Homo sapiens: one gene and its partners. The protein of the gene in region 3 interacts with the protein of the main gene of each other region in a pairwise test. Each region holds a gene or a part of one and is shown on either strand. Other genes may lie near its edges.

Evidence for each region.
Region 1: the proteins of EIF2S3 (region 3) and MAP3K5 interact in binary tests that used the Homo sapiens proteins (3 or more experiments, as listed by UniProt).
Region 2: the proteins of EIF2S3 (region 3) and RASSF1 interact in binary tests that used the Homo sapiens proteins (3 or more experiments, as listed by UniProt).
Region 4: the proteins of EIF2S3 (region 3) and POLR3F interact in binary tests that used the Homo sapiens proteins (3 or more experiments, as listed by UniProt).
Region 5: the proteins of EIF2S3 (region 3) and SPATS1 interact in binary tests that used the Homo sapiens proteins (3 or more experiments, as listed by UniProt).
Region 6: the proteins of EIF2S3 (region 3) and DPF1 interact in binary tests that used the Homo sapiens proteins (3 or more experiments, as listed by UniProt).
Region 7: the proteins of EIF2S3 (region 3) and SYNCRIP interact in binary tests that used the Homo sapiens proteins (3 or more experiments, as listed by UniProt).

Annotation. Positions count from the first base shown.
Region 1 is NC_000006.12:136,782,478-136,785,977, reverse strand, and holds part of MAP3K5 (mitogen-activated protein kinase kinase kinase 5), read left to right. Parts: exon of another isoform or gene 1-563; intron 564-1,703; exon of another isoform or gene 1,704-1,931; intron 1,932-3,500. UniProt on the Homo sapiens protein: Serine/threonine kinase which acts as an essential component of the MAP kinase signal transduction pathway. Plays an important role in the cascades of cellular responses evoked by changes in the environment.
Region 2 is NC_000003.12:50,330,837-50,334,336, reverse strand, and holds part of RASSF1 (ras association domain-containing protein 1), read left to right. Parts: intron 1-2,182; coding exon 2,183-2,287; intron 2,288-2,480; coding exon 2,481-2,778; intron 2,779-2,887; coding exon 2,888-3,003; intron 3,004-3,500. UniProt on the Homo sapiens protein: Potential tumor suppressor. Required for death receptor-dependent apoptosis. Mediates activation of STK3/MST2 and STK4/MST1 during Fas-induced apoptosis by preventing their dephosphorylation.
Region 3 is NC_000023.11:24,057,956-24,061,455, reverse strand, and holds part of EIF2S3 (eukaryotic translation initiation factor 2 subunit 3), read right to left. Parts: intron 1,369-3,500; coding exon 1,274-1,368; intron 1-1,273. UniProt on the Homo sapiens protein: Member of the eIF2 complex that functions in the early steps of protein synthesis by forming a ternary complex with GTP and initiator tRNA.
Region 4 is NC_000020.11:18,477,390-18,480,889, reverse strand, and holds part of POLR3F (DNA-directed RNA polymerase III subunit RPC6), read right to left. Parts: intron 853-3,500; coding exon 709-852; intron 489-708; coding exon 381-488; intron 1-380. UniProt on the Homo sapiens protein: DNA-dependent RNA polymerase catalyzes the transcription of DNA into RNA using the four ribonucleoside triphosphates as substrates.
Region 5 is NC_000006.12:44,377,150-44,380,649, forward strand, and holds the end of SPATS1 (spermatogenesis-associated serine-rich protein 1), read left to right. Parts: 3' UTR 1-3,030; downstream 3,031-3,500.
Region 6 is NC_000019.10:38,217,723-38,221,222, reverse strand, and holds part of DPF1 (zinc finger protein neuro-d4), read left to right. Parts: intron 1-2,164; coding exon 2,165-2,292; intron 2,293-2,560; coding exon 2,561-2,650; intron 2,651-3,346; coding exon 3,347-3,425; intron 3,426-3,500. UniProt on the Homo sapiens protein: May have an important role in developing neurons by participating in regulation of cell survival, possibly as a neurospecific transcription factor. Belongs to the neuron-specific chromatin remodeling complex (nBAF complex).
Region 7 is NC_000006.12:85,632,887-85,636,386, reverse strand, and holds part of SYNCRIP (heterogeneous nuclear ribonucleoprotein Q), read left to right. Parts: intron 1-3,500. UniProt on the Homo sapiens protein: Heterogenous nuclear ribonucleoprotein (hnRNP) implicated in mRNA processing mechanisms. Component of the CRD-mediated complex that promotes MYC mRNA stability.

The DNA of each region.
Region 1 (3,500 bases), on a different chromosome or scaffold from region 3:
CTTGGAGCACACTTTTCTTAGAAACAGTATTGCACATGGTGGTCAGATTCTGGGACTAGCCTGTAAGAAGCCTGGTTAACACAGTTTATGGAACCATTCACCATTTTAAACATTCGGGAAAATTCTGTTTCTGAAACCTAAAACCGGGACTTTTCTTGTATTAGAGCAGTGACTTTTGCTTTCATCCACCTCTGAGTAGCATCTTGGCCAGATGTAGGAGAAGCATCAACTTGGAGTGGTGAAGGTGGTGGGGCTGTGGTGAGGAAGGGGACAAAGGGAAGATCAGGTGGCTGCAGGGAGAACCGGGATGCTGTGTGAAGGAGGAGGCAATGCCAGCAGGAGATCCAGCAACACTTTCACTTCCTTTAGGCTTCTTCCCTTTCTACTTCTGGCCGACGTAAGACCCAGGGATGCTGCTGTGCTCAAGGCCACCTCACTCCTTCAGTGGACACAGGGTTAGCTTGGCTGCCTGCTTCCCATTTCCTTACCACCAGCCTTCACATCCGCCCGGGCCTTTCAGCTTGGCTCACTGCAGATTGCAACCGCTTACTCAGCCTTTCACCCTGTAGCAATCATAGGTAACAGGAAGGAAGCACATGCTAGTTAAAATTGTAAGAACTTAGCTTTTCTATTCTCATCCATGGTATGTTCCCACTTTACTTGAGCTTGTGACAAAAGTCGCCCATGTGTTAATATGCCATCTTGCTGGAGAGGCATCTGACCTTGCCAGGCTTTGGCTCCAACTTGCTTCCAGCAAAGCTCCTTAGGACTTCTAATCTTATTTGGTAAAACAATAAAACAAAACAGAACATAACCTTGTATCCCATCTATCCCAGATGGAGAAGTTCTTGAAAATTGTCCAGCCCACTTCTGCATTTCTACTTTCAATATACTTTCCGAGTATATTGTCTCATATATTTTGAAGGAGAGAGTAAAGTCTGTATGTCCTAAATAGTGGTTCCCACGAACCAGTTAAAAAAATTTGGAGGACTGACATGTGTTTGCCAACATTTAAATTTTTCCAAGTAAGAGTATTATAAGTAGAGAAAGTGAGGAAAATCGAGAGAGAGAAAGAGAGACAGAGAGACAAGAAAATCAACAACCAGCCACCTATTGCCATGATTTCTTAAAAAGGAAAGTTTTATGTTAAAAAAAAATTAGTGGGGGACATAACCTTAGAATGAAGGGCAGATCTTCACATACAGAAAATGTGTGCAAAAACTCATGACTTGTTATTTATTTTTCCCATTTCTCCAAGGATGAGTGAAAACTTTATCACACCAGTCAACAGAGTTGTGTTTGAGAGCCTCTGATTGGAACCGCCCTGCAGCCCCTTCCCACCTTTCAGCCACTGCTTCACGTGAGAAACGAACCTTAGTAAAATTATCAAAAGAGCAAACGTAGATAAACTCATAAGGGAAAACTCTAGTTAGGGAAGGATTTTTTAAAAAAATCCCAGTGGTGTCCAACACATGGTTTTTCTCTGAGCTGTTCACGTTCCCTGGCACACCATTGTAGCAGCTGCCACCCACCGCACACAAACTGACAGCACTGCTGCTTCTTGCTTTCTTGGATAATGGGTCAATTAAGGCAAAACTATAATTTTTTTAAAAGAGCTTAACTAGAAAATCGGACGGAAAAAAGCAAAATCAAAAAGAAAACTCCAGAGCACAAAATTAGTTTTTAGAGTACCAATTTCTTACCCCACATCATCAGCTGCATGTTGTCATGACCGGCTCTGCTTCCTGGGCTGCCAGGATCCTGGTTTCTTTCCTTAATTTGGTCACCTGTTGTCTGCTTGAGACATTATCAGTTGGTAGTTCGAGCTGGTTCCATCTCTGGGTGAAGCCTGTGCATTATATAAGCGCATAACACAGGCTTGTCTCACCCGTGGCCTTGGCTGGAGCCAGCCTTTTGGGAGTTCTCTGTTTATAGGGCAGTTCCCCTCTGGTGGCTATAAGAACTGTGCCCTACTTCCTGTTTCAGAGGTCTGGTTAGAGGCCCATTCAGTTCCTGTTTCTGGTTTGCAGGATAAAATTGGTTCACACTTTCTTTGTGGAGCAGTGGGAGATGGACAAGCACAAAGTCCGGGAAATGTGCAAGTCTCTCCAGCATGAGGTACCAACCGTGCCTGCTTTCCAAGTACTTCCTCCAAGTGGTCCCTTCAAACACCACTCCAAGCCAGGAAAGTAGAGAACCATAGGAAAATGCATTATTGGCTACTGACTCCAGGGCTGACAGTGTGCTGTGCAATGATGGCCCCTCCCAGGAGGCCATTCGAGGGCCTTTTATCACACGCTCCCCTTTCTGTCACCCATGGAAGCCTCACTGTGGCTGTAGAACATGCCAGCATTTGCCCCGCTCCACCTGGGGCAAGATGAGAGTGGGAAATGTGGTGGAGGTGGGCAGTGTTGCAGGAACCCACAGCTATGTGGTTATCAGAAGAAACTGGGAACCCACAGCTTTGGGAAAAATATATCTTGAAGACAGCCTCATCTTCCTGTAATTTGGATATAGGTAGGTGGGGAAACTGGCTAGATATGAGAAAGATACCCTCATTTTCAGGGAGTAAAATTAAACTTGAAAATTTTATTAGTGGCATAAAAGGGAAATAAAGGAAATCAAGGCAAAATGATAAATTAAAAATCCATTGGTGACTCTGATATATTGGTTTGTGTAGTTGTGGGTTTTTTTTTTTTTTAAGAAGATCTTGCTCTGTCACCCAGGCTGGAGTGCGTTGGCATGATTTCGGCTCCAACTGCAACCTCCGCCTTCTGGGCTCAAGTGATCCTCCTGCTTTGAGCACAGCCAAGCCTGGCCAATTTTTGTATTTTTATGTAGAGATGGGGTTTTACCATGTTGCCCAGGCTGGTCTCAAACTCCTGGACTCAAGCGATCCTCCTGCCTCAGTCTCCCAAAGTGCTGGGATTACAGGCGTGGGCCACTGCGCCTAGCCTAGTTGTTTTAATGTATTAGTTTTTCTCTTTGGCTAAAGGTATTGACTAGAGACACTAATCGAAATATGTGCCAGGTTAGTGGAAAAGCAGGAAGGATATGAGACAAAGCTGATTTTCAAAATCTTGTCTAAGTGTTCAAAAAATGTAAATAATTGATAACTTACATTTCATATGAATTTTATTTTGTAGTGTTTTTGGTTTTCCAAAGGAAAACAGAAATAACTGAAACTACATTGTGATAATTTTCTTAGGGGAGACAGGAGAGAGAATTTTAAATATTAAGGGCATTTCCTATTTAATAAAATCATAGTAGAGCAGATCTGTATAACTTAAATGCCACAGAAGTTGCACAGGGTAACAGAAAACATTCCACTATAAGCAGACCTTTTCTGTTACAGTAGTTCATCAACAATGAGGAAAGCAATTGCCTTTGGTATATGATTCATACAGGAAGTAAGTTATATTCCTTTGTACTGGCAATCTCCAAAAATGGTTGAGACCAGTTATACCAGTACTTTCCAATACTTGTAGCCTCTTCTACAC
Region 2 (3,500 bases), on a different chromosome or scaffold from region 3:
AGTGCTCTTCTCCATCCAGGAGACCTTTGGATACTTGGGGAAGAAAATGAGCTTAAATTCCCACCCCTCCCCCTTTACCTTTTTCCTGTAAGGCCCTGGCCTTAGTTCTTAGCCCCACATCCTTGCTGGCTGCAGAATAGCAGCGGGTTCTGGGTAAGGAGCATTCTGCTAAAACGCTCCACCCTGCTCCCTCATCTGTCCTCTCCATTTGTCCCCATCAGATGGTTTAAGTGCTTAAGGGGACTCCAGGGCGGAGTCAGGGAGAACCCTGGCTCTCCTGGGCTAGGCACAAGATCATTCTACAGGAAACCTTGTGGGAATTCTTCTGGGACAAAGTATTGGTCAGCGCTGAGCTTAGCTGTGTCTGTGACACTCGCATTCTAACTAGGGCCTATCTGACGTCAACAGGAAGTAAGGCTGATGCAGTGGGGCCAAGGGAGTCTGGGAGAAGAAAGTCGGTTCAGAGCCCTGGCTGCCCTGTCCCACACTCCACCCTTCCGGCAAGAATCCAGTCCCTAGATGAGGTGGGGAGTGAGTGGTCGAGTTAAAAATCTCTGGGTCGGGTACGATGGTTCACGCCTGTAATCCCAGCACTTTGGGAGGTGAAGGCAGGCGGATCACTTGAGGTCAGGAGTTCAAGACCAACCTGGCCAATGTGGTGAAATCCCATCTCTACTAAAAATACAAAAATTAGCCGGGTGTTGTTGTGGCACGCGCCTGTAGTCCCAGCTACTCGGGAGTCTGAGGCAGGAGAATCGCTTGAACCCAGGAGGCAGAACTTGCAGTGAGCCAAGATCCAGCCACTGCACTACAGCCTGGGCGACAGAGTGAGGCTTCGTCTCAAAAAAAAAAAAAATCTTTGGGCCAAATCTCCAGACAGCACAGGCAGGTGCAGAAACCCACCAGGAAGCTGCCTGTGTACCTCTGGCAGATTGGAGCCTGGCCTAAAGCTGCCTTTTATGCAGCTTGGGTCAAGGTTAAACATCATGTCACAGTGATTTTTCTCACTATGTGTGAGACATGGAGAACTGGCTCCAAGTACTACTCTGTCCACTGGTGGCTGGACTACTGATGTGCACCACTCTCCACTCCTCTCACCCTGCAGTGGGTCATGGCCCCGTGCCGGGGCAGAGGAGAAAAATGGGCTGCCTTCTCCAGGACAAACCCTCACTCCAACTCAACTAGGGTGCTGTGATCAGAATGTGCAATTGAGGTGTGATTTTACTGATTTTTTTTTTTTTTGAGACCGAGTTTCGCTCTTGTTGCCCAGGCTGGAGTGCGATGGCACGATCTCAGTTCACTGCAACCTCCACCTCCCGAGTTTGAGCAATTCTCCTGCCTCAGCCTCCTAAGTAGCTGGGATTACAGGCATGTGCCACCACGCCTGGCTAATTTTGTATTTTTAGTAGAGACGGGGTTTCTCCATGTTGGTCAGGCTGGTCTCAAACTCCTGACCTCAGGTGATCCACCCGCCTCGGCCTCCCAAAGTGCTAGAATTACAGGCGTGAGCCAACGTGCCCAGCCTGTTTTTGTTTTTTGTGTTTTGAAGCAGGGTCTCACTCAGTTCCCCAGGCTGGAGTGCAGTGACACGATAATAGCTTACTGTAGCTGCAATCTCCCGGGCTCAAACGATCCTCCCACCTCAGCCTCCTGAACAGTTGGGACTACAGGCACACCACCACACCTGGCTAATTTTTTTTTTTCTTTTTTTAGTAGAGATGAGGTCTTGCTATGTTGCCCAAGCTGGTCTCAAACTCCTGAGGATCAAGTGATCCTCCTACCTTAGCCTCCCAAAATGCTGGGATTGCAGATGTGAGCCACCACACCCAGCCTGATTTTACTTTAAATGAGAGTCCCTCTTCAGAGTCCCTCAGCTGTTCCTGGCCCCTGGCCATGTGCCTTCAGTTGCCCCTGCTTCTGTGGTATCCTTAAGGCTACATTCAGTGCTGAGGCCCTAGGCAGGCAGCAGAGAGAAGCCAAATGATTCTGTCTTTCCCTTATCCACCCAGAGCATGCAAAACCAGGAGCAGTGGTGGGTTCAGGGTGGGCACCAGCTATGTATATGTACATCAGGGACAGGGGGCCAAAGGCAGTCAGTTTCCAAAGACTGCCCCAGAGGCCATTTTTCAGAGAAGCCCTGGGTTCCTCAAGGGCCCTGTGTCCATGCTGGCCCATCTTGCAGGACGAGCCTGTGGAGTGGGAGACACCTGACCTTTCTCAAGCTGAGATTGAGCAGAAGATCAAGGAGTACAATGCCCAGATCAACAGCAACCTCTTCATGAGCTTGGTGAGTTGACTGCTCAGGAAGGGGGCGTGGGGAGGAGCAGGTACCCAGCTATGTGCCTGATACTCAGAGGGTCACAACTGAGGTTATCTTGGGTGGGCGCAAGCAGTAATTTGTGCATACCCAGCCTAGCCCCAAGTAGACTGACATCTCACCTGGAACCTATTATCAAGGTTTGGTTTCTCTATTTCTTTAGAACAAGGACGGTTCTTACACAGGCTTCATCAAGGTTCAGCTGAAGCTGGTGCGCCCTGTCTCTGTGCCCTCCAGCAAGAAGCCACCCTCCTTGCAGGATGCCCGGCGGGGCCCAGGACGGGGCACAAGTGTCAGGCGCCGCACTTCCTTTTACCTGCCCAAGGATGCTGTCAAGCACCTGCATGTGCTGTCACGCACAAGGGCACGTGAAGTCATTGAGGCCCTGCTGCGAAAGTTCTTGGTGGTGGATGACCCCCGCAAGTTTGCACTCTTTGAGCGCGCTGAGCGTCACGGCCAAGGTGGGCTTCCCACCCCACCCTGCCCTATGTGAGGGTATATACGCATGCACCTGAGCATGCAGGGGCTGAGCAGCTGGCCCTGTCTCTGATCATTACTTCCCCTTCACAGTGTACTTGCGGAAGCTGTTGGATGATGAGCAGCCCCTGCGGCTGCGGCTCCTGGCAGGGCCCAGTGACAAGGCCCTGAGCTTTGTCCTGAAGGAAAATGACTCTGGGGAGGTGAACGTGAGTACATAGTTCTTAGTTTCTTGGTTGTCACTAGACAGGACTGATGGGCTGTAGCTACAGTAAGGCTTGGAGGAGGAATTGTGCTGGAAGACAAGCCCTGCAAAACAGTTCCAGGAGTGTATAGGCATTGTAACTAAAGCAAAGGCTTCCAGACCACTCATGCCAAAGCCTAGGGTTGTCCCAAGAAGCCAGGAAGAATTGCCTTGGTGCTTTGATCTTTCCTGGTGTGGAAAATCTTCTGGAGATGCAGGAGTCCATCTAATGACATGAGGAGGCCCCCTTCAGACTTTTTACCTGGAAGCTTTCTGGCTCCAAGGTATTAGGCCTGTGGAGTGAAATTAGACTCAGAATATGCCTGACCTGTCCACAGGTAATTGGGGAACATCTGACTTGGTTGTCTCAGTAAGGTGACCGTTTTGTAGGGCCCATCTTCCATACAAACTGCTGTCAGGGATCCTACCAGAGATCATTCAGCCAAGAGCCTGACATCAGAA
Region 3 (3,500 bases):
TCCTGAGTAGCTGTGATTACAGGTGTGCCCCACCACACCCGGCTAATTTTCGTATTTTTAATAGAGGCAGGGTTTCACCATGTTGGCCAGACTGGTCTCAAACTCCTGACACCTCAAGTGATCCACCTGCCTTGGCCTCCCAAAGTGCAGGGATTACAGGTGTGAGCCACCGCACCCAGCTTTTTTTTTTTTTTTTTTTAAGACTGAGTCTCCTTCTGTCGCCCAGGCTGGAGTGCAATGGCTCGATCTCTGCTCACTGCAACCTCTGTCTCCTGGGTTCAAGCGATTCTCGTGCCTCAGCCTCCCAAGTAGCTGGGATTACAGGCACGCACCACCAAGCCTGGCTAATTTTTTGTAGTTTTAGCAGAGACAGGGTTTCGCCCTGTTGGCCAGGCTGGTCTTGAACTCCTGACCTCAAGTGATCCGCCTGCCTCGGCCTCCCAAAGTGCTGGGATTACAGCCATGAGCCACCATGCCCAGTCGCTTTTTTTTTTTTTTTTTTTTTTTGAGATGTAGTTTTACTCTTGTTACCCAGACTGGAGTGCAATGGCGCAATCTTGGCTCACTGCAACCTCTGCCTCCCGGGTTCAAGAGATTCTCCTGAGTAGATGGGATTACAAGCATGCGCCACCACACCCGGCTAATTTTGTATTTTTAGTAGAGAGGGGGTTTCTCCATGTTGGTCAGGCTGGTCTCAAACTCCTGACCTCAGGTGATCCGCCGACCTCAGCCTCCCAAAGTGCTAGGATTACAGGCGTGAGCCACCGCACCAGCAGCTTTTAAAAAATTTTACCCCCTAGTAATGAAATCTCTCAACAGCTAACATAAGAAACAAAGCATACGCTACCCTTCAAAACTCCACTTATTCCTACACTTCAGCACGTATTATGAATATTTGTATCTTAAATACTTCCACAGTAGACAGTTCAGACATACACACACACAAACCATAACACAAATAGTTTTACACATACATTTAAAACTAAATAAATCACCTCATGTGATTTAAATGAGAAAAATGAACTATTGACTTTTTTTCTTTTTCTCAAATGCTACCACAAGAATTCTCGCAAGCTATCAGCCCCAAGTCTATCTTTTTGAGTATTTTGTGATAGCTGATAGGTAGGAAAGTCATCCTGGATGACATGTTAGTTCCCATTCATGTCACCCTTAGGTAATAGATATGATCCTTAAAGGCCTTAGTTCCCCTTTAAATATTTCATCTTGGATTTGTTCCACATTGATTTGTCCAAACCAATTGTGAGGTATTTACCTATCAACAGAAGAGCTGCATCCATCACTGCTGCACCGTTCAGCATAGTAGCCATCAAAATATCGTGGCCAGGACAGTCAACAAAGGAAACATGTCTAATGATTGAGAAATAACAATCAGCCTTAACATAAATCACTACTTACACATGCTAGTTTTAGATTTTTTAAAGTTAAATCAACTTAGGAAATAATCTTATTGCTATAAAATGGTTACAGGGCTTGTCGTTTCTAGAACTTGGAAATAAGTTCACCAGCTGATGAAAACCACTGCAGATTACAAAGCAAATTAAATTAGTTATGTGCAGAATGGAAGATAAACTCCAAAATCCAATGAAAATGAATATGGTATAGAATAATGGTGGAGAGTATATACTGAGAATGTCATTGATTTGAAAGCTAAAACTTATAATGACTTATAAAAACCACGTTAACAGAATGAGAATTTGAAAAAACAATTTTCTGGCTGGGCGCAATGGCTCACACCTGTAATCCCAGCACTTTGGGAGGCCAAGGCAGGTGGATCACCTGAGGTCAGGAGTTTGAGACCAGCCTGACCAACGTGGTGAAACCCGGTCTCTAATAAAAATACAAAATTAGCCACATGTAGCTGGTGCATGCCTGTAATCCCAGCTACTTGGGAGGCTGAGGCAGGAGAATCGCTTGAACCCAGGAGGTGGAGGTTGCAATGCGCCAAGATAGCACCATGGCATTCCAGCCTGGGCAACAAGAGTGAAACTCCGTCTCAAAAAAAAAAGAGAAAAAAAAAAACAATTTTCCAAAAATACCTCTAACACCTTGAAAAACTAGAATTGCCCATTTGAAGCAGAGATGGCAGCACTTTTAACAAAACTATGGTATTCATTCAGAGTCACAATTGTTTTTTTAATCGCATGCTCACATTGTCATGATCTAAAACAGAGGTCAGCCCTTAGGCCAAATCTGGCCCACCACCATACCTATTTACACACGTATTGTCTACGTTTGCTTCTGTAATAGAAGAACAGAATCAACAGAAACTCTATGGCTTGCAAAGCTGAAAATATTTACTACCTAGCCCTTTGTGGAAAAAGTTTGCTGATCCCCTATTAAAGGCCAGGACTACAGTGAGACAAGTGCAAAATTTAAGAGACTGCCAAAAAACTCAGTAATCAAGGAAAATGGCCGGGCATGGAGGCTCATGCCTGTAATCCCAGCACTTTGGGAGGCTGAGGCGGGCAGATCACTTGAGGCCAGGAGTTCGAGACCAGCCTATACAACATGGCAAAAGCCCACCTCTACTAAAAATATAAAAACTAGGCCGGGCACAGTGGCTCACGCCTGTAATCCCAGCACTTTGGGAGGCCGAGGCGGACGGATCACAAGGTCAAGAGATCGAGACCATCCTGGCCAACATGGTAAAACCCCGTCTCTACCACTGCACTCCAGTCTGGCGACACAGAAAGACTCCGTCTCAAAAATAAATAAATAAATAAATAAAAATAAAAACTAGCTGGGCATGGGGGCTCACGCCTGTAATCCCAGCTACTCGGGAGGCTGAGGCAGGAGAATTGCTTGAACCCAGAAGTGGAAGCTGCAGTGAGCCAAGATCGCACCACTGCACTCCAACCTGGGCAACAGAGACTGTCTCAAAAAAAAAAAAAAAAAAAAGAAAGAAAAAAAAATATATGCATTCAGTATTTTTAAAAAGTCGAAATTAATGCAAAAAATCAATCATAAACAAAATACAATGCCATGCTGAGCCAAAGCAAAAGGGGAAAAAAATTTAGTAATAGAGTCTGCCCTTATTTAAAATTCTGATTTATCACATTTTTTGCATTAATTTAAAAAAAACACTGCATTAAAATATTTATCCTAATTACTGAGTTTTCTGGCATACCTGCCACCGCCAGGCCCACTTACATTTTGGGCTTGAGGTGAAGGCCTCACTTGTCCCTCCCTGGTCCCAGCCCTGCCCCAATCTAAACATTCCTTGTAGGGCATCTCCAATCCCCATAAACATCACTAGACAGGTGTCAGTATCCTGATAAAAAAACAGGTATGCAATCATATTCAGAAAACAGATGGGGAACAAGTTCAAGTGTTTTAGAGAAGTAATTAGAAATGGCTCTGTTTCTCTCCTATTTAACATACAGAAACAGCGCTGTTTAAAAGAAATTCAGGAAGCCTAGAAAAAGAATCCCTTCAATCCAATGAGTTGTTTTTCTGTTTTGTTTAAGTGATACTTTTAG
Region 4 (3,500 bases), on a different chromosome or scaffold from region 3:
CTTCACTGTGAAAAGCATCAGTGTCCTTAAAAAAAGAATTTCAAAAGGCTAGGGTACAGTGGCACTTTGGGAGGCCAACGCAGGAGGATCACTTGAGTCCAGAAGTTCAAAACCAGCCTGGGCAACAAAATGAGACCCTACCTCCAAAAAAATAAAAAAAGCATCAGTGTCCCAAGCTGAGTATCAGTTCAGACAATGCCCAATGGCAGTGACTGCCTTTGCCTAAGATACAGGACAGTATTTTCCCAAAGTGGATTCTGCAGAATGTTCGTAGCTATCATCTCAAAAAAAAAAAACAATGTGGGTCAAATACATGTTTGGAATACATTGTATGTGACAAAGAATAAGTTTTAAAAAATAAGATGAAATTCAGTTCTGACCTTACTGATTCCCAATTCGCAGATATATTTCCACACTTCATGTGATGAGGCAAATGAACTATTTCTTTGTATCATTGGGTTCTGTTTGCTTTCTCGTGCTGTTTCTGCCTATAAGGATTGAAACATAAGAAATGTAAATAAGAATATTGGTGTGTTTTCTGAATACACTTTATACTGAGTCAAACCAACAACAGAACATATTTAGTTAAGTAAAAATTCCCAATTTCAGGTTTTTAATTCCTATAAAATATGATAAATAGATTAAAATCCTTTGTGAAAAACTTTTTACAAGAGGGTTTGCAGTGATGTTTCCTCAATCATACCTCACCTTGGACTGTAGGAATTTAAAACACTGTTGGTTAAGCACCTCTACAAATTCAGATTCAAAATCCTGGTCACTGTACCAGGCTCCACCAGTCACAGACCGGTCTGGCTGCAGGTTATAGAGCATATACACCTTCTTTTTTGAGGCCTAGGAAAGAACATGCACAGTTCATGTGTTTATAAGATAACAATTTCCAAAAACAAAAACACCTATATTTTGGAACAGTTTAAGATGTACAAAATTATTGCAAAGATAGTACACAGAGCTCCTATATACATCATGCTGTTTCCCCTATTTTTAACATCTTGGATTAGTGTGGTACACTTGTCACAATTAATGAACTAATATTGATAAATCATTACTAACTAAATGCCATACTTTATTCAGATTTCATTAGTCCTAATGTTCCTTTTCTGCTCCAGGATTCCATCCAGGACATCATACTACATTTAGTCATCTCTCTCAGGCTTCTTTTAGTTGTGACAGTTTCTCAAACACCGTATTTCTATCACTATGGACTCATGAGTATTTATTTTATACTTTGATTTACATTCAGATACTTCATTGTTATTCCCACACTGGAAGCTTTGGAATGCTTTGGGCATTGGAAGCTTTTCACTTGGTTCCTGTATCCCTTTGCTATGCTCCCATCGTGTGTGTGTGTATTTTAGCACTTTTTTTTTTCTTTTGGAGACAGGGTCTTGCACTGTCGCCCAGGCTGGCGTGCACTGGTGCAATCTTGGTTCACTGCAACCTCTGCCTCTTGGGTTCAAGTGATTCTCCTGCCTCAGCCTCCCGAGTAGCTGGGGCTACAGGCATGTGCCACCATGCCCAGCTAATTTTTGTATTTTTAGCAGAGACGGGGGTGTCACCATGTTGGCCAGGATGGTCTCGATCTCTTGACCTCGTGATCCTCCCGCCTCAGCCTCCCAAAGTGCTGGGATTACAGGCATGAGCCCCCGTGTCCAGCTATTGTAGCACTTTCTTACTTTCTAGCACTACAAGATGTCAAGAGCATTTTCTTTTCTTTTTTTTTTTGAAACGGAGTTTCGCTCTTGTTGCCAGGCTGGAGTGCAATGGCACACGATCTCAGCTTACTGCAACCTCCACCTCCCAGGTTCAAGCGATTCTCCTGTCTCAGCCTCCCGAGTAGCTGGGATTACAGGCGCCCGTCACTATGCCCAGCTAATTTTTTTGTATTTTCAGTAGAGATGGGGTTTCACCATGTTGGCCAAGCTGGTCTCTAATTCCTGACCTCAGGTGATCCACCCTCCTTGGCCTCCCAAAGTGCTGGGATTACAGGCATGAACCACCCTGCCCAGCCGTCAGGAGCATTTTCTACATGTTCATTTTATTGCATGATAGAAACCACGACTTGGGCACTAGATGTGTTCATTGCCATCGGGATGTCATCACTTCTAGGCCTTCTCAGTTGGCAGCACGAGATTTATGTGCGCATATTAACCCTTGTATATATACATAGCTATACTCAATATTTCTAAATATAACCATCTATATTATTTATATTAAATTACACAAGAGTCCATACTGATGTTTTCAAGTCTAATCCATTACTACATGGATCATTCTAACTTTCCTTGTTTGTCTGTAACTACTCACCCCAACACTGAGGAACCCAAATTTCACTGGGTTGTAAACATGAAGAATTTGGGCCAGGCATGGTGGCTTATGCCTGTAATCCCAGCACTTTGGGAGGCTGAGGTGGGCAGATCTTTAAGTCTAGGAGTTCAAGACAGGCCTGGGTAACATAGTAAAACCCTGTCTCTACAAAAATACAAAAATTAGCTGAGCATGGTGGCACGTGCCTATAGTCCCAGCTACTTGGAAGGCTGTGGTGGGAGGATGGCTTGAGCCCAGGAGGTTGATGCTGCAGTGAGCTGTGATTGTGCCACTGCACTCCAGTCTGGGTGACAGAGCCAGACCATGTCTCAAAAAAAAAAAAAAAGAAAAAAATTTGGCTAGACTTTGTCCCTTTTTCCTAGGAAATAACTTCTACATCTTTGGAATTTCCCAATAGGCCTTGTTATTCATGGTGAATCCCTTAGATCACACCTGGGTTTATGCTAACAAGGTGACTCCTGATAGGACTCTAAATAGTTTCAGGATAGGAGTTGTCCATGCTGGAAAGACCAACCGCATGATTAGAGGGTTGGGGCTTTGGGCCACATGACATCAGTCCAATCTCTTGGGAGAAGAGAGGAGCTGGAGATTGAATTCACTCACATGACCAAGGATTCAATCAATCATGCCTGTATAATGAAACCCTAATAAAAACTTTGGACAGCAAAGCTTGGGTGGGCTTCCAAATTTGGTTAATGCTTCTGTCATACAAAATAATTTCACCACCCTAGAAATATTTCTCATGCTTCACCTATTCAACTTTCCCTACCATCCCTGCCCTCACCCCGATCTTTTTAGTCTGTCTAGTTTTGCCTTTTCCAGTATGTCATATAGTTGTAATCATACAGTATGTAGCCTTTTCGGACTGGCTTCTTTTACTTAGCAATATGCATTTAAGATTTACTCATATCTTTTCATGATAGCTTATTTCTTTTTATAACTGAATACTATTCTGGTTTGTCTATCCATTCACCTATTGAAGGATACCTTGGTTGCTTCCAGTTTTTGATTATGAATAAAGCTGCTGATTACGAATAAAGCTGCTATAAATATTCATGTAGTTATGTGGACATGAGTTTTCAAATCAGTTGGGTAAATACTTAAGAGCTTGACCTTTGGACAATGTGGTAAGACTCTGTTTAGTTTTGTAAAAA
Region 5 (3,500 bases), on a different chromosome or scaffold from region 3:
TCCAGTGTTTGACCCTTATGAGGAAGTGTTGTGCTTTGCTTTTTTAAAACTTTATATTTTGAAAACTTTCACATTTACATAAAAGTTGCAAGAATTGTACAACAAACACCTGCATATCCTTCACATAGATTCTATCATTGTTAATATTTGTTCAAACTTTCTCTCTCTCACAATATTACAGTTACCATTTTGCTGAACTCTTTGAGAGTGAGTGGCAGATATTGTAACCCTTTACACCTGTATACCTACATACCTCAGCATGTATCTTCTAAGGTCAAGGATGTTGTCTAACAACCACAACACAAATACCAAACTCACAGAATTTAACACTGATAAAATATTATTAACATTTAGTCCACATTCAATTTTAGTCAATTATATTTAGTTTTCTAAGGATGCCCTCAAATCAATCATAAAATACAGACATGATGTGAGTGTCTTAGCCTGTTCAGGCTGCTATAACAAAACGCCATAAACAGAATGGCTTATAAACAATAGGAATTCATTTCTTACAGTTCTGGAGGCTGGGAAGTCCAAGCGCAGGGTGCTGGCAGGTTCAGTGTCTGCTGAGGGCCAGCCTTCTGGCTCATAGATAGTACCTTCTTGCTGTGTCCTCATATGATAGAAAGGGTGAGCTAGTCCTCTGGGGTCTCTTTTACAAGGGCACTAATCTCATTCATGAGGGCTCTGGTCTCATGACCTAATCGCCTCCCAATGGCCTTACCTCCTAATACCATCACCTTGGGGATTAGGTTTCGACATATGCATTTTGGGGTGGGGAGGACAAACATTTAGACCATAGCAGTGAACTTTCATTGCTTTTGGTAAAACTTTTCATTTTATTAATACCTTTTGGAATGTTTCTCTAATGTTAACTTGGTACATGTCAGAAAAACATGAAGGCTGGATCTATACCAGGTAAGTAATACTATTGCCCTGTAGCTGCATTCCCCAGTTTAGTATTGCCTATCTACAATAGCCAAGCAGGGTGAGAGCTCAGTGACCACCAGTCATGAGTTTTAGGGCCTCCTGTCAATCAGACAAGAAGCAAACATTTGGAGGAAAAGGTGAAAACAAAAGCTGCCTCACAGGCTTTGACACAGTCAAACTAGTGACTCACGGCATTTTTACAGCCAATCTCTTTCTCCACTAGGGAACCCCCTTGGCTGGCTAATGAAGGCTGCAGATCTAGTATCTCCAAAACCTTAAAGTGGAAAGAGATTGGGGTCCATGCTGAGACTCCACATGTCTATGACATGAGCATGATTTATTTCCCAAAATGTTTGTTGTCTCCAGTCACAGCCAAAGTGAATGAAGCAGGTTTAGAACACGATACATTTAGCCAGGTGTGGTGGCTCATGCCTGTAATCCCAGCACTTTTGGAGGCCGAGGCAGGCGAATCACTTGAGGTCAGGAGTTCGAGACCAGCCTGGTCAACATGGCGAAACCTGTCTCTACTAAAATCACAAAAATTAGCCAGGCAAGATGGTGGGCACCTGTAATCCCTGGTACTCGGGAGGCTGAGGCAGGAGAATCTCTTGAACCCAGGAGGCAGAGGTTGCAGTGAGCCAAGACCATGCCATTGCACTCCAGCCTGGGCGACAAGAGCGAAACTCCATCCCAAAAACAAAGAAGCAAACAAAAACCACAATGCATTCATGGCACCTTCATATGTGCCTCTAGACTAACTGGCAGAGAGCATGGTGCCGACTGCCAGCTGCTGTGCCTGACCACTCCTTGGGTTAACATCAGCATACATCCGTGCTAATCCTCTGGCCCCTGGGTCACAGGCCCACCCCTGCTCCCAACATAATAATTTAAAAAAACACCAAATAATTTTTAAAAAGACAGAGGCTGCCAAGAGATTTTCCAGGACACATTAACTTCTGAAAAGATAATAATTTTTTGTGCCTCTATTACTTAAATGTAAAAAAGTCTTCTTTCCCCTAGTCAAAAACAATGCCCCACCCCTAAAAAAAAAAGTCAACTGCAACCACCAGGTGGGTTAGTAATGGAGGACACAATATAGAACAAAAAAAGATTCTGCAGAGATTTCCTGGTGAGATTATCTAGGTGGCACAGGAAACTGCTCTCAGAAGGTTCCCTGGTGTTTTGGAAGGAGGGAGTCCTACACCATAAATATATTAAGGAAAACAACCGGCTGGGCGTGGTGGCTCACGCCTGTAATCCCAGCACTTTGGGAGGCCGAGGCAGGCGGATCACGAGGTCAGGAGATCGAGACCATCCTGGCTAACATGGAGAAACCCTGTCTCTATTAAAAACACAAAAAAATTAGCCAGGCATGGTGGTGGGCACCTATAGTCCCAGGACTGTACTATACTCGGGAGGCTGAGGCAGGAGAATGGTGTCAACCTGGGAGGCGGAGCTTGCAGTGACCCAAGATTGTGCCACTGCACTCCAGCCTGGGCAACAGAGTGAGACTCTGTCTCAAAAAAAAAAAAAAAAAAAAAAAAAAAAGAAAGAAAGAAAGAAAGAAAAACAACCAAAATACAGTTTTAGAAGGTTTGGAGTAGTCTCTAGGTTTCAAAGAGGTCTATATAATTCCTAGGTGCTGCTCTAAGTAGATATGATTTGATTCCTTTTTCTTTTAATCCAGGCCGCAAAAACCATGAGTAAAAAAAAAAAACACAAAAAAACAAAAAAACCCTACACAACTGTTAGATGATTGAACTTCTGGAGTTGCAGAGCTACATTTCATCCCCTGAAAATCAGGGCAGTTTTCGCTGGATCTGGTGTTCTCTGTGGGTACATCTCGATGCCCAGGCCTTATTCCACGGCACCTCAATAGCTGTCAGGTAGAGTTCCACTGCCAACTTTGGACAGCATGAGTATGTCTACGTGTGTGGGGAGACAAAGGCATAGAGAAAGGCCACATGGGAAAAATATGTGCATATCATAGCTGTTCCAGCTTTTGCTTCTTTCCAGCTAGAAAGAGGTTGAACCTGTTAGATGTAAAGATCCCCTTCACCTCACTGTAGGGTCTTTGGTAAATAAAAACATGTGGGTGCAGAGGTGTGTGTGTGTTCAATTCTTACTTTCAATAACTGAAGTTCAATAGAAATAAACTATATGTGAAACTTTACAAGTAAATTTCTTAGTGTGCAATTTTATATTGCACAGAGGTATTCTAATTTTGGATCCTGGGATAAATGAAAAATGACCTCTGTGGACATGAAGAAACATTGTATTATTCAGCTAGTGGCACCAACGTTCGAATTAGTGATCTCTGAACTCCAAGTTACCAAAATGTTAAGATAGTAGGATATTAAACTTCTAAAATTCCACAAGGAATTTAGGAATATACTGTAGGATTCCACTAATTGTCCACATTTCTAATACGAGGCACTCAGTTTGGTTAGTTTTGTTTTGTTCTTAGGCATTTTGGTCTCAAAATCTAGGCAGGTAAACACATTGTTTACAGGACTTGACTTGGTGAAGTATTTTAGAGTTGGAGTCCTTCAAGATCATGTCTCTGTCCT
Region 6 (3,500 bases), on a different chromosome or scaffold from region 3:
GGTGTCTGCCTCTGTATCTCCCCAAGGGCGTCTGGATGTCTCAGTGTCTGGTTGGAGCTCTTTCCTCTCTTAGGTGTATCTTCCCAGGTGTCTCCAAGTGTCTTAGAAGGCTTGTGTCTTGTGTATGTCTGGTCTGTCAGGGTGTCCGGCTCCTCCCGAGTGTGTCTGGGTGTGTTAGGCGGTGCGGCCGTCTCTTTCTGTGGGTGTGTGGGTGCCTCGGAGTGTCTGGGAGAATCTTCCTGATGGTGTCTGGCGTATCAGGTGTATTTCTGCACGTGTGTGCCAGTCCATCAGAGGATCTGGACTTACCCTTGAATGTGTTTAGGAATATCGGGATCCTCGGGGTCAGTTTCTCTTCCTGAGTCCGAGGGTCTGTGTGTACCCAGGAGCGTGGCAGTGCCCACCTGGCTGTGTCTCTTCCTGTCTGTCTCCTGTGTGTGTTTGTGTGTATCTAGCTGAGTGATTCTCCCTGAGTATGTCGGTATCTCCCCGCTATGTGTCCAAGCATCTCATCTGGCTGTGTCTTCCCCAGGGTCTAGGTGTATCTGGAGGGCTAATTGTTTCTTTCTTTTTTTCTTTTTTCTTTTTCTTTTTCTTTTTTTTTTTTGAGACGGAGTCTTGCTCTGTCGCCCAGGCTGGAGTGCAGTGGCGCGATCTCACTGCAAGCTCCGCCTCCTGGGTTCACGCCATTCTCCTGCCTCAGCCTCCCGAGTAGCTGGGACTACAGGCGCCTGCCACTACGCCCAGCTAATTTTTTGTATTTTTAGTAGAGACGGGGTTTCACCGTGTTAGCCAGGATGGTCTCGATCTCCTGACCTCATGATCTGCCCGCCTCGGCCTCCCAAAGTGCTGGGATTACAGGCGTGAGCCACCGCACCCGGCCTCTTTCTTTCTTTCTCTTTCTTTCTTTCTTTCTCTTTCTTTCTCTCTCTCTCTTTTTCTTTTCTTTCCTTCCTTCCTTTCTTTCTTTCTTTCCTTCCTTCTTTCTTTCTTTCTCTCTCTTTCTTTTTCTTTTCTTTCCCTCCTTCCTTCCTTCTTCCTTTCTTTTTTTTTTTCACCCAGTTTGGAGTGCAGTGGCACGATCTCGGCTCACTGCAACCTCCGCATCCCGGGTTCAAGTGATTCTCTGCCTCAACCTCCTGAGTAGCTGGGATTACAGGCATGTGCCCCTACACCCGGCTAATTTTTGTATTTTTTTTTTTTTAAGTAGAGATGAGGTTTTACCATGTTGGCCAGGCTGGTCTCAAACTCCTGACCTCAAGTGATCCACCCGCCTCAGCCTCCTAAAGTGTTGGGATTACAGGTGTGAGCCAACGCGCCTGGCCAGCTAATTGTCTCTGAGCATTTCTGAGTGTACCCATGGGTCCAGCTATGTCTCCTCCCTGTGTCTGGGTGTCTCCAAGGATCTGGCTATACCTCTTTGAGTCTCTAGGCTGTATCTGAGAGTGTGGCTTATGCCTGTAATTCCAGCACTTTGGAAGGCCGAGGCAGAGGATCGCTTGAACTCAGGAGTTTGAGACCAGCCTGATTAACACGATGAAACCCCATCTCTACCAAAAATACAAAAATTAGCCCAGTGTGGTAGCATGCCAGCTACTCTGCCTGTAGTCCCAGCTACTCAGGAGGCTGAGGTGGGAGGATCACTTGAGCCTGGGAGTCGCAGTGAGCTGAGATTGCGCCACTGCACTCCAACCTGGGTGACAGAGCGAGACCCTGTCTCAAAAAAAAAAGAAAAAAGACAGCATGGCTGGGCCTCTTCCTTCCCGCATCTGTCTCAGACGATCTGTCTGGATGTCCCCTGCGGGTGTCCCTGTGTCTCCTCTGCGAGTGTCTGGATCTGTCCATATTTGTCTGGGTATGTTTGAGAGTCGCTGTGTCTTCCCTGAGTAGGTCTGGGTGTGCCTGATGGCCTAACTGTGTCTTTTTCTGAGGCTTTCTGGTGTATCCAAAGTTCTGACCGTGTCTCCTGCTGTGCATCCCAGGGCATCTGAGGGCGTGACTGGGTCTCCCCAGAGTCTGGGCCTCCCTCCTAGGGCATGTGGTTAAATCCTTGCCTCTGCAGCCTCTTCCCTCCTGCAAAGAGCATGGTCCCCCCACCTGCATAGTTTGAGGAGTCCTCCGGGGTCAACTTCCCCATCTGACCCCCCCATGGCCCTGTCCCCAGACTGTGAAGCACCCCTGAAGAAGGAGGGTGGCCTCCCGGAAGGGCCGGTCCTCGAGGCTCTACTGTGTGCAGAGACGGGGGAGAAGAAGATTGAGCTGAAGGAGGAGGAGACCATTATGGACTGTCAGGTGGGCCCACCTCTGGGGGACCCCCGCTGCATGGCTTCGTCTCACCCCTGCCTGCCACCAGCCCGGGCCCTCACGTTCCTGCTCTGAAACCCCCCCGGTTTCTTCTGGCTGTTGGGCATCCCAGTCACCATCCTCCCAGACTTCATCTCTATTTGGAAGAACTCCTGACTTATACTCTCACCCCCAATCTCCACCTTTGCCCAGAGCCCCTCAAAAGCAGGTCAGTGGCCCCCACTTTCTTGACCCGTCTCCTTTCTCTATTGCCCAGAAACAGCAGTTGCTGGAGTTTCCGCATGACCTCGAGGTGGAAGACTTGGAGGATGACATTCCCAGGAGGAAGAACAGGGCCAAAGGAAAGGTATCACCCCAAGCTTCTCCTCTTCCCCGCTCCCCTCAATGACAGGTCTCATTCATGGAGCAGGTGCAGTGGTCCGCCCCTGCCACAGTCTGACCTCAGTCTGACCTCATTGAATCCCCAGAGCGGCCTGCAGGGGTGGGGGATTTTATACCCATTTTACAGATGAGGAAACTGAGGCTCATCTGTATTAAGCCATTTGCAAAGCAGAGATTATGCAGTGGGTTAGAGCTACCTTCATCCCCATGCCACAGAGGAAGAAGCTGAACCTTGGAGAGGTTCAAGGCCCCACAGCTAGGACATTTGTACAGCTGCAATTTGAATTTGCAAAAGACACTGTTTTCTCACTTTCTTTTTTCTTTTTTTTCTTTTTTTTGAGACGGAGTCTCGCTCTGTCACAGGCTAGAGTGCAGTGGCGCAATATCTGCTCACTGCAACCTCCGCCTCCCGGGTTCAAGCGATTCTCCTGCCTCAGCCTCCCGAGTAGCTGGGACTACAGGCACGCGCCACCATGCCCAGCTAATTTTTCTATTTTTAGTAGAGACGGGGCTTCACCATGTTGGCCAAGGTGGTCTCGATCTCTTGACCTCGTGATCCGCCTGCCTCGGCCTCCCAAAGTGCTGGGATTACAGGTGTGAGCCACCACGCCTGGCCTGTTTTCTCACTTTCTTGGCCCCTCACTCCTGACTCTCCCCACAGGCATATGGCATCGGGGGTCTCCGGAAACGCCAGGACACCGCTTCCCTGGAGGACCGAGACAAGCCGTATGTCTGTGATAGTGAGTCCTTCTGAAGAGGGGGAAAGGCAGAGAGAGGGGTGCCCAGAGACTCCCCACCTCGTGGCCCTCTCCCTC
Region 7 (3,500 bases), on a different chromosome or scaffold from region 3:
GCAACCTCCACCCCTCAGGTTCAAGTGATTCTCCTGCCTCAGCCTCCCGAGTAGCTAGGATTATAGGCGCCTGCCACCACGCTCAGGCTAATTTTTATATTTTTAGTAGAGATGGGGTTTCGCCATGTTGGCCAGGCTGGTCTCGAACTCCTGACCTCCGGTGATCCACTCGCTTCGGCCTCCCAAAGTCCTGGGATTTTAGACGTGAGCCACCACGCCTGGCTAGAAAGAAATTTTAATATTTTAAATTATAGTTTATGTAAGTCCTTTAAACTAGTTTTATTAAGTTCTGTGACAGAAGTGGTTTCTGCATTTTATAGTTGAAGAGTTGGGGGCTAATTTAAACCCATAGAATGTATCAAGCAACACGACTGGGGAGAACTTTTGTACAAGATAGCTCACTATGCCATGTTTGTTAAATTTGCTTTATCTGGCTTACGTATCCTGTGGGTAATTCCAGACAAACTTAAAATCTTCAGACTCATTTTTTTTTCCCTCCCTCCTGAGTTTTACCCCTTCCTTTACCATGAGGTTTATCACTTTAAGCAAGCCTTAAAGAGAAAAATAAAACTCATAAGTCTTCCTTTTCTTTTTTTTTTTTTTTTTTTTTTTGGGAGATAGAATCTCACTCTGTCACCTAGACAGCAGGAGTGCCATGGTGCGATCTTGGCTCACTGCAACCTCCGCCTCCCAGGTTCAAGCGATTCTCCTGCCTCAGCCTCTCCGGTAGCTGGGATTACAGGCATTTATCACCACACCTGGCTAAATTTTGTATTTTTAGTAGAGACAGGGTTTCACCATGTTGGCCAGGCTGGTCATGAACTCTTGACCTCAGAAGATATGCCTGCCTCAGCCCCGCAAAGTGCTGGGATTGCAGACGTGTGCCACTGCACCCGGCCAAGTCTTCCTTTTCTATGTTGTGTGAATATTCCCCACTGGTTTGCATAATTGAGTATGATGGAAGTTAAACAGTACAAAATTATGTTACTTGAAAGAATATAAGCCTTTACAAAGAGAATTTGAGAATTTAGATATTTTCAAATCATGTCTGATTTTTCTCTTCATAAAAGAGTGCTTTGTGTTTTAGAGGGAATTCAGATTTACTGGTAACCTTTGAGTTGTCAAAATTTTAGTTTCAGCAGTTCAATTTGAGGGGAGGGGCATTTTAGAGCTCTAGAAAGAGGTACCTTAGAAATCCTTTAGTTTGTTTTTATGATTTGTTTTTTGAGACAAAGTCTCTGTCACCCACGCTGGAGTGTGTGGGCATGATCTTGGCTCACTGTAATCTCTGCCTCCTGGGCTCAGGCAATTCTCCTGCCTCAGCCACCCGAGTAGCTGGGATAATAGGCGCGTACCACCACACCTGACTAATTTTTGTATATTTGGTAGAGATGGGGTTATGTTGGCCAGGCCGGTCTTGAACTCCAGACCTCAAGTAATCTGCCCGCCTTGGCCTCCCAAAGTGCTGGGATGACAGGCATGAGCCACTGTGCCTGGCAGGTTGGTCTTGAACTCATGGTCTCAAGCAGTCCTCCTACCTCGGCTTCCCAAAGTGCAAGGATTACTGGCATGAGCCACCTTGCCTGTCCCAAAATCCTTTAATCTCCTATAAAAGAGTAGAATATTTTTGCCAAGTAGCAATAAAGTAGCAGTAAGTGAAAATGCAGAATGATCCAGTAAGCAATGAGGTATCATAACTACAGAAAGCTAATACAGTGGGCTCTCTCTACTGTGGGTCCTGCATTCACAGTTTCAGCTAGCTGAGGATTGAAGATACTCCCAAAAAACCCAATAAAAAAAAAAAACAACACACCAGTGTATGAGAGAATGTTCGTAGGTTATGTGCAAACACTATGCTATTTAAGAGAGTTGAGCATTCATGGATTTTGGTATGGGTTCCTGGAATCAGTCCCCCGTATGTGCTGAGGGACCACTGCAGAATTTAGCTAGTGGTGTCATCCATTTTTTAACATTATGAAAAAGAATCATTAAACTGACATCGTAGGTTACCTAATTCTTGCCGTCAAAATGTACCAATTATGGTAGGTGACCACTATAACTTATTTATAGATGTTTTCCAGAAACTTTACAGTAAAGATACATCATTAGAGGAAGATGGTTTATAATCCATTAGTAACAGTGATTTCGAGTGCCAGTAGACACTAGGAAATGTTTCCATTTGTACAATTGCCTTGTTTAATAAATACGTTAAATTATAAAATTGCATTGCTGTAGGTTGCTTAGAATATAGTCTTATTAATATAGTTTTTAAATATAATGGAGAAACTTCTATAGATAAGCATTCTTTTTGATTGGCGTAGGAATTAACCCTTGTCCTAAAACTTTCTACATTTCTTTCTGGGTTTCTCTGTTGTGATTTGAATCCTTTTCTGGGGGCATAATTATTTTGTACTATCTAATTAATAGGAGACTTTGCATTTTGTTGTCTTTTAAAAGATACTTTTGGCAGGGTGTGGTTGCTCACACCTGTAGTCCCAGCACTTTGGTAGGCTGAGGTGCAAGGATTGATTGAAACCAGCCTGGGAAACATAGACCCCATCTGTACCAAAAAGTAACAGATTAGCCAGGCAGCGTGCACCTGTGGTCCCAGGAGGTCAAGGCTGCAATGACCTGTGATCATGCCACTGCACTCCAGCCTGGGCAACAGAGACCCTGTCTCAAAAAACCAAAAAGGGGGAAAAAAAAAATTTCCAATGGTAGGTATTGGTATACAGCCAGTAGGATATATTGGTCATACCATCATTTGCTTTTTTTGACTTTTTAGTAAGTTTTTTTGAAACGGAGTCTCCCTCTGTTGCCCAGGCTGGGGTGCAGTGGTGTGATCTCAACTCACTGCAACCTCTGCCTTCTGGGTTCAAGTGATTCTTCTGTTTCAGCCCCCTGAGTAGCTGGGATTACAGGTGCACACCACCATGCCCTACTGATTTTTGTATTTTTAGTAGAGATGGGGTTTCACCCTGTTGGCCAGGCTGGTCTCAAACTCCTGACCCCAGTCTCGGCCTCGGCTTCCCAAAGTGCTGGGAGTACAGGTGTGAGCCACCACACCCAGCCTACTTTTAAGTAAATTGTTTATTTTATTTATTTATTTATTTATTTATTTATTTGTTTTTGAGATGGAGTCTCACTCTGTTGCCCAGGCTGGAGTGCAGTGGTGCAATCTCGGCTCACTGCAAGCTCTGCCTCCCGGGTTCACGCCATTCTCCTGCCTCAGCCTCCTGAGTAGCTGGTACTACAGGCACCCACCACCACACCCAGCTAATTTTTTTTGTATTTTTTTAGTAGAGACAGGGTTTCACCGTGTTAGCCAGGATGGTCTCGATCTCTTGACCTTGTGATTCACCCGCCTTGGCTTCCCAAAGTGCTGGGATTACAGGTGTGAGCCACCGCGCCCGGCCTTAAGTAAACGGTTTTAATTATTATTACTGTTTTCGGAGACAGGTTGTCACTCTGTTGCCCTTGCTGGAGTGCAGTGTCATGAT